4 linked regions of the Homo sapiens genome follow. The protein of the gene in region 1 purifies or fractionates together with the protein of each later gene. This does not show direct contact. Each region holds a gene or a part of one and is shown on either strand. Other genes may lie near its edges.

Region 1 (3,500 bases):
TCCTTTCTAATTTTCTTACTTGTTCTACTATACGGTGAGAAATACATATTGAAATTTGCAACTATCATTTTAGCTTTGTCTATTTCACCTTTCAGTCTCGTCCATTTTTGAAGCTTTGTTCTTAGGCATATATTCTTTGAGGGTTGTTATGTCCTTGTGGTGAATTGACTCTTTTATCACTGGAGTCCAAGTTTCTCCTTAACTCTGGTGCTATTTCTCATCCAGAAATCTACTTTGTTTGATAGCAGTATAGCCCACTCTCGCTTTCTTTGAGGAAATATTTGTATAGTATGTTTCTTTCCATCCTTCTACTTTTAATCCATCTGTCTTTATATTTAAGGTGAATTATTTATAAGTCATGTAGAGTTATGTGTTGCTTTTATATCCATTCTGGTAATTACTGTTTTTCAGTAGGAGTGATTAAAACATAGGTCAGCAAATGTTTGCCTAAAGGGCCAAATGATAAATATTTTAGGCTTTTCAGGCCATATGGTTTCGATTGCAACTACCCAACCATGACATAGTGTGAAAGCAGCCATAGAAAGTATATAAATGAATGGGCCTGGCTGTGTTCCAATAAGACTTTATTTACAGAAACGGGAGATTGGCCTGTGGGTTATGCCATGATTAGGCCGTTTGCATTTAATGTGATTACTGATATGACTAGTTTTTTCTTTTTCTTTTTTTTTCTTTTTTTGTTTTGTTGAGTTGGAGCTTTGCTCTGTCGCCCAGGCTGGAGTACAGTGGCGCGATCTTGGCTCATTGCACCCTCTGCCTCCTGGGTTCAAGTGATTCTTCTGCCTCAGCTTCCTGAGTAGCTGGGACTACAGGCACATGCCACCACGCCCAGCTAATTTTTTGTATTTTTTTTAGTAGAGATGGGGTTTCACTGTGTCAGCCAGGATGGTCTCGATCTCCTGACCTTGTGATCTGCCTACCTTGGCCTCCCAAAGTGCTGGGATTACAGAAGTGAGCCACTGCACCCGGCTGATATGGCTAGTTTTAAATTACATCTTGCTATTTTGTTTTCTGTTTGTGCCATCTATTCTTGGTTCCATTTTTTCTGCCTTCTTTTGAATTTATTGAATATTTTTTAGTATTCTCTTTTATTTCCTCCATTGGTTTGTTAGCTATACTTCTATTTTGTTTTTAGTTGTTACTGTAGGGTTTCCAATAGGCATCATTATCTTATTACATCTTACCTTCAAGTAACACACCACTTCATATGTAACGTATGAGTTTCTTAACAGTATACTTCAATTTTTCCTATTCCATCCTTTGTGCTGTATTGTCATGCATTTTTCTTCTATATTTGTGTACCTCACAATGCATTTTTATAATTTTTTCTTTAAACAATTGTCTTTTAAATAAATTTTTAAATGAGAAAAAAGTTTTATAGTATCTATTACACATTATTATTTCCAATACTCTTCATTCCTTTGGTGGATTTACTTGAGCAGACAGTTAATTGATATCGTTTTCCTTCAGCCTAAAGAACTTTCTTTAACTTTGTTTTGTTTTGTTTTAGAGTAGAGGTCTATTAGCAAGCATTCTTTCTGTCTGAAAATATCTGTACTTATTTTGATTTTGAGGAATATTTTCTTTACATATAAAATTCTGGGCTGACAGTTCTTTTCCACCTCAAGTTGTTATTGTTGTTGTTTTGAGACAGGGTCGTGCTCTGTCTCAGAACAACACTGTGAGTGTAGTGGCATGATCACAACTCACTGCAGCCTTGACCTCCTGGACTCAAGTAATTCTCATGCCTCAGCCTCCTGAGCAGCTGGGACTACAGGCACGTGCCACCATGCCTGGCTGATTTAAAAAAAAAAAAATTGTGGAGATGGGGTCTCGTCATGTTACCCACGCTGGTCTCAAACTCCTGGGCTCAGGCAATCCTCTCACCTCAGCCTCCCAAAGTGCTGGGATTACAGTTGTGAGCCACCACACTTGGCTTCAAGTTTTTAAAGATATTCGGTTGCTTTCTGGCTTGCCTTGTGTATGATGGGAAACCAGTGATTTCCTTCTGTTTGTCCCCGGTATGTAATATGTGTTTTTTTTCTCTAGTTGTTTTTAAGATTTTCTCTTTGTCACTCATTTTCAGCAATTCGATGATGTGTGATATTTGTGTTTATCTTACTTGGTATTCATTAACATTTTGTATCCCTGAGTTTATAATTTTCATTAAATTTGGAAACATTTCAGCCATTCTTTCTTCTAATGCTTTTCTTTTCTCCTTCAAGAATTCTAACGGCATGTATGTTCGATCGCTGATGCTGTACCATTCATCATTGAGGTTCCTCGTTTTTTAGTATTTTTCCCTCCCTGTATTTTATTTTCAATAGTTTCCATTATTATGTCTTCAAGTCGGCTGTTACTTTTTTTTTTAATGCTAATCTGTTAAACTTATTGATTGGATGTTTCTTTTCAGATACTGTGTTTTTTATTTGGCATCATAATTTTGTTTCTTTCATTTCATTTTATTCCTGTTTCTCTTTAAGTCCTTGATATAAATCATCATATTTATAAGCAGTGATTTAAATTTCTTATCAGCTAATGCAATCAACTGTCCTTTCTGAGTCTTGCCCTTGACCGATCTTTTTCTTAGTATGTGTCACATTTCTCTGCCTCTGCGCATGGAATAATTTTTTATTGAATACACACACAGTGTATGTGTTGACGGCTCTTGTGAGTCCTCGGGTCCTGTCTTCTTAGTTTAAAAGAATTTCAACAAAAGACACATAGCAAAGGAGATGTAGCATAAAGTAATTTATTGAGAAAGAAAAAGACTATTTTGAAAGTTAGGTGCAGAATAGACAGTACACCCTGAGAGAGGAAGATATCAAGGCAGGCTGCTCGTGAAGATTGGACAACAAAGACTGGTACCAGGGATGCTCCCTTTAATGGAGACTTCCATGGTTACTCATAAGCGGGTGGGAAGAGGTGTTGCTAGTAAGCATGTTCTGGGCGATCCTCTTGGTGCACTTACTCAGTAGCTGTACATGATTGTCCATACATCTCATGTCTCATTAGCATCTTAAATCTCCACCCAGGGATCTGTTTTTTATTTTTATTTTTTGTGTGTTCTAATAAAACTTTATTTACAAAAACAGCAGTGGCCTCACGCTGCAGTTTACCAACCTCTGCCCTTGAGGAAATTCTAAACGATCCTTCTATTCTCCTTGTAGAAGATGATATTACACAATTTTTGGCATATGAAGAAGCAATCGATAAATACAAACACAAAAATATGTAGGAAAATCATATTATCTGTGCCAAACAGAAAATTGCAGAAATATTTCCTTTTTGCAGATTTTTGTGAATTTTTCCAGCTTTTTAACACTTGCAACATGCCATTTTTTAGTATTTGAAAGAGCTGTCTCTTTAATATCTAAATTTTCTTTTCTTTTTTTTAATTTTTTTATTATTGTACTTTAAGTTTTAGGGTACATGTACACAACGTGCAACTTTGTTACATATGTATACATGTGCCATTTTGG
Region 2 (3,500 bases), on another chromosome or scaffold:
TTATGTTGCCTAGGTTGGTCTTCAATTTCTAGGCTCAAGCAATTCTCTCGTCTTGGCCTCCCAAAGTGCTGCGATTATAGGCGTGAGCCACCGTGCCTTGGACTTGAATGTCTTCTGATTGAACTTTTCATAAATTTGGAAGGCTTTCCCCTGCAAATTACCTGAAAAAGCAGAATTTTATAACATGAATAACAACAAAAGAAACTAATTTGTCCAAAAAAGCATATTCGGGACAGCTTGACGAAAAAGCCCCAATTTACGGTTCTACTAATGTTTCTCAGGATATACCCTCAGCAACAGTATAATTTCTTAACAATATGTCTGGCAATAAAATTAGCAACAGTTTCTAAGTCCACCAGCAATTTATTGTTTCATTTTTTGGCACACTGTATAGAACCACATAAGAGAGAATTCATGACCTTTCTTATAATCAGTGGTTTATTAAATTATCATGTAGGTTAACTTATTTGTTGATTTCTGCTCAGGGAAAAGAGTGGTATGTATGGATGTCTTACCTTGGTTCACAAATATCTTATTATGTTGAAGATTTAGGTTTAACACAGGCACAGCCAAAATATATTGATGTTGATTTTCATCAGTATATTCAAGGTACACATCATAAAATATAGGAGTGGGAAAGTCAATTAAGATCTTAGAGATAGGAATCTCACACTGAAAAGTAAAATTAAAAATAAAAGCACATAAAACAGCAACTTAAAGTACTAAAAAGTAAAAAATAAAATAAAAGATCACAATTGAAAATTAGCAAGCATATTTATTATCTTCAGAGTGTTTTTCTAGTTTTGCAAAATGTCTTTATACTACCTTGTTTATATGCATTTTCATTTGTCTTCCAAAACATGAATACTATGATTATTTTATAAGGACCAAAACCACTAACAGTAAAGTACTGCTTTGAGAATTTTGAGAACTTCTTGAGCTTCAACTCAGATGAAGGAGGTATACCTTCATTCTCAATATTAAGGGTACATCAGTGAAAAGGTTTAAAACTACTGTCCTACGGGATAAATTCCCAATTTTTTCTCCTGCTGTACAATGATGTATATGATCTGGCTTCCATTAACCAAGCCAGGCTTATCTCTCATTACTCCCTATCAGTCTATGGTGGTCCATTCATACTAATCTACTTGTAGTTTCTAAATATGCCATACTACTGTATGTCTCTCTGTCATTACAAATGTGATTTCTGTCTGATATTTCCTTCCCCACTGTGTTCTTCTGGAAAACTCATATTCATTATACAAATCCAAGTATCACTTACTTTGTGAAGCCTTTCTATACTTCCCCAGGAATCAGTACCTTGTACATACCTATAGAATGACACTTATCACATTCTTTGCAATTCTTTGTCTATATAACTGTTTTGCCCACTAGTCTATGAAGGACTTGAGAGTTAGCCAGGTTCAAAGAAATAAAAATGCTTTTTAAACCTGATGATAGAACATTGGCTCCACAGTTTATGTGACACAAGTCTTTGAGTAAATTACCTAATTACACGGCATAATTTCCTCATCTGTGAAGCACAGATACTATGTATCTCATATAGTTATTTTATGAATCAAATGGGATAATAACGATAAAATGCTGAGCACACAGATAGGCATTACATAAGTGTTGATCTTTCTGGCCTATGTTAGAAGCACAATAACATTTATTTTAACAACAACAGCAACAACAACGTGTAAATCATTTCTGACAAAAGAAGTAAATTCATGTTCATGGTAGAAAATTTGGAAATTATAAAAAAGAAAAAAATAATTTCTAACCCCACTATCCAGAGGTAACCACTGTTAGTAGATTCTTCCAATCTACTTTCCATAATGGTATTTTTTGTTATGGTTTTGTTCTATGGTTGTGCGTGGAACTTTATCAAGATGTACTTTTACAGACTAATGAATTGATATGGTTTGGCTGTGTCCCCACCCAAATCTCATCTTGAACTGTAGTTCCCATAATCCCCATGTGTCATGGGAAGGACCCGGAGGGAGGTAATTGAATCATAGGGGCAGTTACCCTCATGCTGTTCTCATGATAGTGAGTGAGTTCTCATGAGATTGATGGTTTTATGAGGGGCTTCTCCCCCTTTTGCTCAGTACTTCTCTTCCTGTCACCACGTGAAAAAGGACATGTTTGCTTCCCTTCCACCATGATTGTAAGTTTCCTGAGGCCTCCTCAGCCATAGTGAACTGTGAGTCAATTAAACCTATTTCCTTTGTAAATTACCCAGTCTCGGATGTGTTTTTATTAGCAGCGTGAGAACGGACTAATACATGCATGTTTTTCAAGTATTGAATGGCTCATAATATTCCTTAGTAAAATAATGTAATTTCAAAATAGGTATCAAAGTAAGGAAAGTCAGAGAAGGAAGGAGAAAGAAAAGAATGGAAGAAGATGAAGGAATTATTTTTATTTGTTATGAGCGGGTAGAAGAAGGGAGTAACTTTTTATTAGTCATTTAAAAAAAGTAGTATTTTTACTTTATTTCAAAATGCTCAGAAGTAAGCATTACTTTTTAAGACCTATAAGCCTAGAAGCAGATAAACAATTTATTATGAAGATGTAATATTATATGATGTTTAAGACTCTAGGCCGGACGAGGTGGCTCACACCTGTAATCCCAGCACTTTGGGAGGCCAAGGCTGGTGGATCAGTTGAGGTCAGGAGTTTGAGACAAGCGTGGTCAACACAGCAAAACCCCATCTCTATGCAAAACACAAGAATTAGCTGGGTGTGGTGGTACATGCCTGTTGTCCCAGCTACTCAGGTGGTTGAGGCACGAGAATTGCTTGAACCCAGGAGGCAAGAGATTGCAGTGAGCTGAGATTGCACCACTGCACTCCAGCCTGGGCAACAGAGCGAGACTCTGTCTCAAAAAACAAAAAACTCTATAGATAACAAGGTGCTCTGTTTATGCCACTTAAATTAAGCTTTTATGTACCCAGGTAATAAAAAATTATATTAAATAGTGAAATTATTCTTCACTATTAAAAACATTTCCGGCCAGGCACGGTGGCTCATGCCTGTAATCTCAGCACTTCGGGAGGCTGAGGAGGGCAGATCATCTGAGGTGGGGAGTTCAAGATCAGCCTGATCAACATGGAGAAACCCTGTCTTTACTAAAAATACAAAAAATTAGCTGGGCGTGGTGGCACATGTCTGTAATTCCAGCTACTCGGGAGGCTGAGGCAGGAGAATCACTTGAACCTGGGAGGCGGAGGTTGTGGTGAACTGAGATTGCACCACTGCACTCCAGCCTGGGCAACAAGAGCAAAACTCCATCTCAAAAAAAAAAAAAAAAAAACCAAGAATAAAAAATTTCCAATCTCAAAAATTTAAGTATTATTCCAATTACTGCTGACATGATATTTTGAAAAATAAAGCTAAAATATAGACTAATATCGTTCAAACTTACATTTTGTTGGTAGGTTGTTCCAAATGAATAAGCAGCATTTAGCCTTGTCTCTGTGTCTGGACAAAGC
Region 3 (3,500 bases), on another chromosome or scaffold:
TAGTAATATATAACTTTTAAAAACTAGAGCATGGTATAGCTTTATGAATAATCAGATTTGGATCACAAAGTTATGGAGCCGTTTACTTCATGAGTCCAAGCAGAGAGTAGCAGGGAAATCTCTATTTTTAATACAATATATGTTACAAAATGTTTCCAAGTGCGTGGTTAGGTGGATATATTCTTAGAGAAGAAATCATATGAAATATTAAAGCAGGTTATGATTCTGTTTGGTCTTTTCAATCCTGGGTGGTTAAAACTTAAGAAATGATTCATGTCTCTAATAAGGTGAAGGGGATGTTATATTACTTAAAAGAGCACTGCGTATCCAAAGGAAATGGAAGAGTTGTTTTTTCTTCTCTTAAGGAATTTGTCCAAGTTATTACAAATCTTGCATCAAGTACAGTCACAAGTATACTAACCACTATACCATTTAAGTTGGAGATTACTTGAAAAGCATGACATTTTTCTTACCTTTGAGTAGTCCGGTTTGCTTTGTACTGTTAAATCTTAGATAAATGGTGAAATATGGATGGTTTTTATGAATTTTTTCTTGTTCAGATGAGAGATCTCCAGCTGCTCAGTATGTAGACCTATTGCTGAACCCAGAGCGTTACACTGGCTATAAAGGGACCTCTGCATGGAGAGTGTGGAACAGCATCTATGAAGAGAACTGTTTCAAGTAACTGGAGGGGGTGGGGGAAGAAGGAACGACTGATAGAGGGTCGGGAGAGGCCGGGTGCTGTGGCTCACGCCTGTAATCCCAGCACTTTGGGAGGCCAAGGTGGGTGGATCATCTGAGGTCAGGAGTTCAAGACCAGCCTGGCCAACATGGTGAAACCCCGTGTCAACTAAAAATACAAAAAAATTAGCCGGGCATGATGGCAGGTGCCTGTAATCCCAGCTACTTGGGAGGCTGAGGCAGGAGAATCACTTGAACCCGGGAGGCAGAGGTTACAATGAGCAGAGATTGCGCCACTGTACTCCAGCCTGGGTGACTAAGTGAAACTCTGTCTCAAAAAAAAAAGAGGGTGGGGAGGGGAGTATTTGTTTCTATTGGAATAAAATTATACACTATAAAAGTTAAAACATTCTATGTTTGGGTATTATGCTTTCTTTTTCAGGCCTCGATCTGTTTATCGTCCTTTAAATCCTCTGGCGCCTAGCCGAGGTAGGTTTTTCATATGTACATTTTCATGCTTTTCATTGTTTATAAAATGTCTTTATAACTAAACTTCATATTGAAAAAACTTTCATTTTTATATTTTGTTTAATTTGAATGATGAACAAAAAGTGTAAGATTAGTTCATAGTCGAGTCTCGAGATCTCTAGGCATGTTGTTTTACATAATTACTGTCATTTATTGAATGCCTGCTCTGTGCCAGACCCTAAACTAGGAAGTTTATGTAAAATAATTAAAATATGTGAGTAATCAATATATATCAAAGATTTCCTGGGGACTTATTAAAAAATCTGGTTGCTCAGGCCCTACGCTATATTAATTAAGTCAGAATCCTTGGAATGAGAACACCAGGCATTGTTATTTTTTAAACTCTCCACATGATTCCAGTATGCAACCAAGTTTGACAGCCAGTGTCTCGTAACAGTGCTTCTAGACTTCAGTGTGCATACACATCACCCAGGAGCCTTGGTAACATACAGCTTCTGATTCTGTATTTCTTGGGAGAGGTCCAAACACACTCCTAGGTGCTGCCTCAGGTGCCGACTCATGTACCACACTTTCAGTAGGAAAAATGTACAACAATTTTAGAAACTTTAGCAGTGCTCTATATCTGTACTGTCCAATAAAGTAACCAGTTTCCACATGGGACTGTGGAACACATGAAATTTGGCTAGTGTGAAACTGAATTTTAAATTGTATTTAATCTTAGTTTATTTAGATGTAAAAACTATATTGTTAAACAGAACCTTATTGTTTTGGTAAGACTACTATAACCTATGCGTCATGTAACATATTTTTGTTGTAGTGTGTGTATACTTTTGAATTTTAAAAATGTGGCTATTAGAAACATTTTAAGTTAACACTCGTGTGTGGCGTTATATTTCAATGGAACAGCATTACTGTCATCAGTGGGATACATCCTCAGTCTGTTCTCAGTGAGGAACCAAACCCTGGGAGCAACTCTGTCATTGACCTGCCATTCCAGTGTTTTCTTTAGACGGGGAGTGTTTTAAGAAATTTGATTTCCTGATCTAAATTTGTATCTTTAGACCTTTCTGAGAACCAAATAGACTTGGAAGGGTTGACTGCATAGACTGCTTTTTCATGCTCACTCTGTCACAATGTGGCAAATACTTGTTTTCCCCAAATTCACATTGAAACTGCCTGGAGAAGGAAGTTGGTCCTGAAAAAGACGTGCCTGGCTTCTTATCCTTTGTCTCTTTTACTACTTTTGCCTCACAACTTTTCTATTTTCAACTTAAAGGTTTTAATTAAACAAAATTTTATAAAAATTGAAGCAATATAGTAGTTATATAAAGTGAAAAGGGAAAGCTCTTCTATTCCATAGTACAGAGTTTGAAAGGTGTTCTTCCAGACCTTTTCTACAGCCACTTAATACTTTTAAAGCAGAAAATACAATTTTTTCACTTAAGAAAACCATCAAGTCCTAAGAAACACTTCATTTCCATGTTAGTGATATATCAGAGACATAACACTGCTGAAAAGATGAGGAAAAGGAAACTACTACATAGAAAAAGAGGAAGGGAAGAGGAGAAAAGAAGAAAAATGAAATATGAAAGAAGACAAGACTAGGTAAAGAGAATGGTTCCTAGCTGTTATAGGAGTACTCTATGAAGTAATTAATAGCTCTTGCTGTTGCTATTTACCTGCTATCTCCATTGAAATTGGTTGATTAATAGTTCTTTAATCTTCTTAACTCTTTCTTCCACATTTCTGAGTCATAACCCCTAGGCTTATACAACTATTTTCTAACAGGTTTTGAGCAATAGGAACTTTTGTCCAAAAATGAAATCTTATTTCAGAACCTACATAATAAAGCTGATAGGCAGAGCTGCTGTGTTGCCCTAGAGCCCAACCTCTGGCCTCTTCCTCACCTCTAGGCCTCCTGGAAGCAGCACCTTGCCCAAGGGTTTCACTGATTACAGTTTGGGATATACTCTTACTAAGGCCTGTCTCTGCTGAGGAGCAGTAATTTAAAAGAGAAAAATATTCCAGGTTGGAAACAGTAATGTTCAGAGAGGATTGTGTGCATAATGATTAAAGGAGCAACTTTATGTAGTAATTAATTAATTATTGAAAATAGTGGTCTTTATGACTTTTTAGTTGCTTTCTGATGTTATTGTATTTTAAAATGTGCAAATCTTTTTTTTTTTTTCTTGAGACAGAGTCGCACTCTGTCACTCAGGCTGGAGTGCAGTGGTGTGATCTCGGCTCACTGCAACCTCCGCCTCCTGGGTTCAAGCAGTTCTCTGCCTCAGCCTCCTGAGCAGCTGGGATGACAAGGTGCCGGTCACCAC
Region 4 (3,500 bases), on another chromosome or scaffold:
TTTAGTAGAGATGGGGTTTCACCATGTTGGCCAGGCTGGTCTCGAACTCCTGACCTCAGGTGATCCACCCACCTCAGCCTCCCAAAGTGCTGGGATTACAGGCATGAGCCACCACGCCCAGCCACCTCGGGAGTTCTGAGAGGATAACTATTAGGACATGTCCTAATATGATAAGACAGGGGTGACCCTTGAGGAAAGGGTGGGATGGTAGGGGGCTGCCTGAGGGGGAGGCACTCTAGGAAGAATGTGGGAACATGATAGATACTTCTTGGGCAGAGGCCCAAGCAAAGGATGGATAGCCTATGGTCAAGAGACCTCGGGGGATGTGGTGTCTCACACCTGTAATCCCAGTGCTTTGGGAGGCCAAGGTGGGAGGATTGCTTGAGGCCAGGAGTTCAAGACCAGCCTTGGCAACAGAGAAAAACCCCATCTCTCAAAAAAAAAATTTTTTTTGAGACAGAGTCTCACTGTTGTCGGCCCAGGCTGGAGTGCAATGGCACAATCTCGGCTCACTGCAACCTCTGCCTCCTGGGTTCCAGCAGTTCTCCTGACTCAGCCTCCCAAGTAGCTGAGATTACAGGCACCCACTACCACACCTGGCTAATTTTTGTACTTTTAGTAGAGAGGGGGTTTCACCATGTTGGTTGGCCAGGCTGGTCTCGAACTCCTGACCTCAGGTGATCCATCCATAACCTCCCAGAGTGCTGGGATTACAGGCATGAGCCACCGTGCCCAGTCAAAAATTTTTTTTCATTAGGTGGACATGGTGGTGCATGCCTGTAGTCCGTTATTCAGGAGGCTGAGGCAGGACGGTCACTTGAGGCCAGGAGTTCAAGACCAGCCTAGGCAACAGAGTGAGACCCTATCTCTATGAAAAAAAAACAAAACAAAACATTTTTTTTAATCCGGGTGTGGTGATGCAAGCCTGTAATCACAGCTACTTGGGAGGTGAGGGAGGAGAATCACTTAAAACCTGGGAGGCGGATGTTGCAGTGAGCCAAGATTGCGCCACTGCACTCCAGGCCTGGGCGACAGAGCGAGACTCTGCCTCAAAAAAAAAAAAAAATTCTTTTTAATTAGCTGGATGTGATAGTGCACACCTATAGTCCCAGTTACTCAGAAGGCTGAGGTGGGAGGATTACTTGAGCCCAGGAGTTTAAGGCAGCAGTGAGCCATGTTTGTGGCACCGCACTCCAGCCTGGGCAACAGACGGAGGGCAACAGACGGAGACGCTGTCTCTAAAAAAAAAATAAAAAGAGCTGAGTACTTGAAGCAAATGGCAGCCGACATATGGGGCCATAGGACCCCTGGTGGCTGGAGAAGCCTAGCCTCTGGGTTCCTCGGGGGAACATGGCTGGCCTTTCCTAATCCCCACGCATCAGTAGCTCAAGTCCAGGATGGAGAGTAATAATAAGGGAGACACCTAAGCCTTTGGAAACTATGTGCCCGGCCCTGGCTAACTTCACTAAACTCACAAAACCCTAAGAGAAGGGCACAGTTATCTGCTGTTTATACAAACGGGCTGAGAGATGGGGGTAGCTGGCTGGAGGTCACACATTCAGTAACTGGTAGAGCTGGAACCCAGGCCCTGGAGCCTCAGCCACTGTGCTCTCCTCCTCTGGTGAGCAGCAGGAGGGCATCTTCTCCCACGTGTGTCTGCTCCGGAACTCCCTGAGAGGATATTACTCAGACCCTATTTGGATACTACATGGGACAGGAAACTCATTCAACCTGTCTGCTTTTCCCAGTCCTAGCGGGCTAGGAGATGGACCACACTGCTTCCCCAAGCGCACAGGGCCCCCCCCACCAGGCAGGCTCACCAGCCATCCACAGCGTCCACCACCCTCCCAGAGATCTCCATCTCCCAGAGCGAGGCGAGCATGCGTTCCCGACGGTCAGGCCTGCGAGCCAGGCTGATGACAAAGACCTGGAGGAGGCAGGGGGGTGGGCGGTAAGTGCAAGGGAGCGGAAGAGGAGGGCCCATCCACCTCCTAACAGCGAGCCCACAGGCTGGGGGACTTACCTCGTCAAACCCTATCTTGCTGGGCCTCTTAGAGGGCCGAGTCACATGAGCTGAGGCCTGCATGCGGGGGCCGTCCACTGCAAAGGGAAGCACACCCCAAGCACGAGTCCCTACTGACTCCTGTTAGCAGTCACCCTGAAGTCCTAGCCCCCAGCCTCATTCCTGCCCCCTTTGGCAGAACACCCCACAGGACGGGACCTCAGAGATCACAGGATCCACCTGCCCCCATTGTAGGGATGCTAGACTAAGGCCCAACAGGGAAAGGGACTTTCTCAGAGTCATGGAACGAGTTAGGGACAAAGCTGGAACCCCAAGGCCAATGCCCGCTCCGTCCAGGGCCTAGGGAAAGGGGCACCGTGGGGAGGCAGGGAGCCCCGGCAGCAGGTGGGTGGAACAGTTCCCCAGCCCTCACCTAGTGCTTCTAAGATCAGGTGGATGAAGTTGACCCTCTCGTCTTCCAGCCCCTGGTGGGATTTCACCGGCACATTCATGTACCCATAACGGTGCTCATTGCACACGTGGACGGAGACCCCTGCAGAGACAGGCTGAGTGAGAGCTGCAGTGGAGGGTGGGGCTCTCAGAACCCAGCTGAAAGGTCCTAGGCCCAGCACTGCCAGTGACCCAACATGTCAGTCTTCTCTGGGACTCAGTTTCCCCACCTGTGGGACCAGAGGGAGAAAGGGCTTGGCTCACACAATATCTAAGGGGTCTTTCTACTGAAATGGTTCATTCATTCAATATACCTGTCCAGGGCACCCGCTGGGAGCCAGGGTTACGGCAGTGAGCAAGACTGAGTCCCTGCCCTCAGGGCATCAAGGTGAGGCAGGAGCAGACAAACTCCTACCCATCACAGCCACAGGGTGCCAGTGAGCCCCACTGCTCTGTCTCCTAAATCCCCCCACCTCTCCTGATCCCCACCACCCCACCTGGATCCAAGGGCCATCGCCTTTTCCCCACACCCCTCCACTTCACCTCACACCCTCTGGGGCTCCTCTCCACGATGTCTTTCACCTGGCAGCCAGAGTGGCCTTCCCCCGGCTTCAATATTTGTTACCTTTTTTTTTTTTTTGAGATGGAGTCCTGCTCTGTCACCGAGGCTGGAGTGCAATGGTGCGATCTTGGCTCATTACAACCTCTGTCTCCCAGGTTTGAGCAATTCTCCTGCCTCAGCCTCCTGAGTAGCTGGGAATACAGGTGTGCACCACCACATCCAGCTAATTTTTGTATTTTTAGTAGAGACGGAGTTTCGCCATGTTGGCCAGGATGGTCTCGAACTCCTGGCCTGAAGTGATCCACCCACCCTAGGCCATCCAAAGTGCTGGGATTACAGGCGTGAGCCACTGCACCCGGCCAATATTTGTTACCTTTATTATAATTATCCTCAGGGGCAGGCACACAGTGCCAATTAAAAAGCTAACCTAGGCGGGGCACAGTAGCTCACGCCTGTAATCCCAGCACTTTGGGAAGCCCAGGCAGG

Evidence for each region. Proteins that work in one complex are often made in the same cells at the same time.
Region 2: the proteins of LYZL2 (region 1) and TMEM67 purify together in Homo sapiens (affinity purification with mass spectrometry; 2 studies listed by BioGRID and IntAct, with this or other methods). This does not show direct contact.
Region 3: the proteins of LYZL2 (region 1) and ERO1B purify together in Homo sapiens (affinity purification with mass spectrometry; 2 studies listed by BioGRID and IntAct, with this or other methods). This does not show direct contact.
Region 4: the proteins of LYZL2 (region 1) and CERCAM purify together in Homo sapiens (affinity purification with mass spectrometry; 2 studies listed by BioGRID and IntAct, with this or other methods). This does not show direct contact.

What each region holds. Positions count from the first base shown.
Region 1 is NC_000010.11:30,619,754-30,623,253, reverse strand, and holds part of LYZL2 (lysozyme-like protein 2 precursor), read left to right. Parts: intron 1-3,500.
Region 2 is NC_000008.11:93,782,394-93,785,893, reverse strand, and holds part of TMEM67 (meckelin isoform 1 precursor), read right to left. Parts: intron 3,500-3,500; coding exon 3,434-3,499; intron 673-3,433; coding exon 516-672; intron 1-515. UniProt on the Homo sapiens protein: Required for ciliary structure and function. Part of the tectonic-like complex which is required for tissue-specific ciliogenesis and may regulate ciliary membrane composition.
Region 3 is NC_000001.11:236,233,459-236,236,958, reverse strand, and holds part of ERO1B (ERO1-like protein beta precursor), read left to right. Parts: intron 1-560; coding exon 561-681; intron 682-1,123; coding exon 1,124-1,170; intron 1,171-3,500.
Region 4 is NC_000009.12:128,427,357-128,430,856, reverse strand, and holds part of CERCAM (inactive glycosyltransferase 25 family member 3 isoform a precursor), read right to left. Parts: intron 2,556-3,500; coding exon 2,436-2,555; intron 2,101-2,435; coding exon 2,024-2,100; intron 1,928-2,023; coding exon 1,821-1,927; intron 1-1,820. UniProt on the Homo sapiens protein: Probable cell adhesion protein involved in leukocyte transmigration across the blood-brain barrier. Does not express any beta-galactosyltransferase activity in vitro.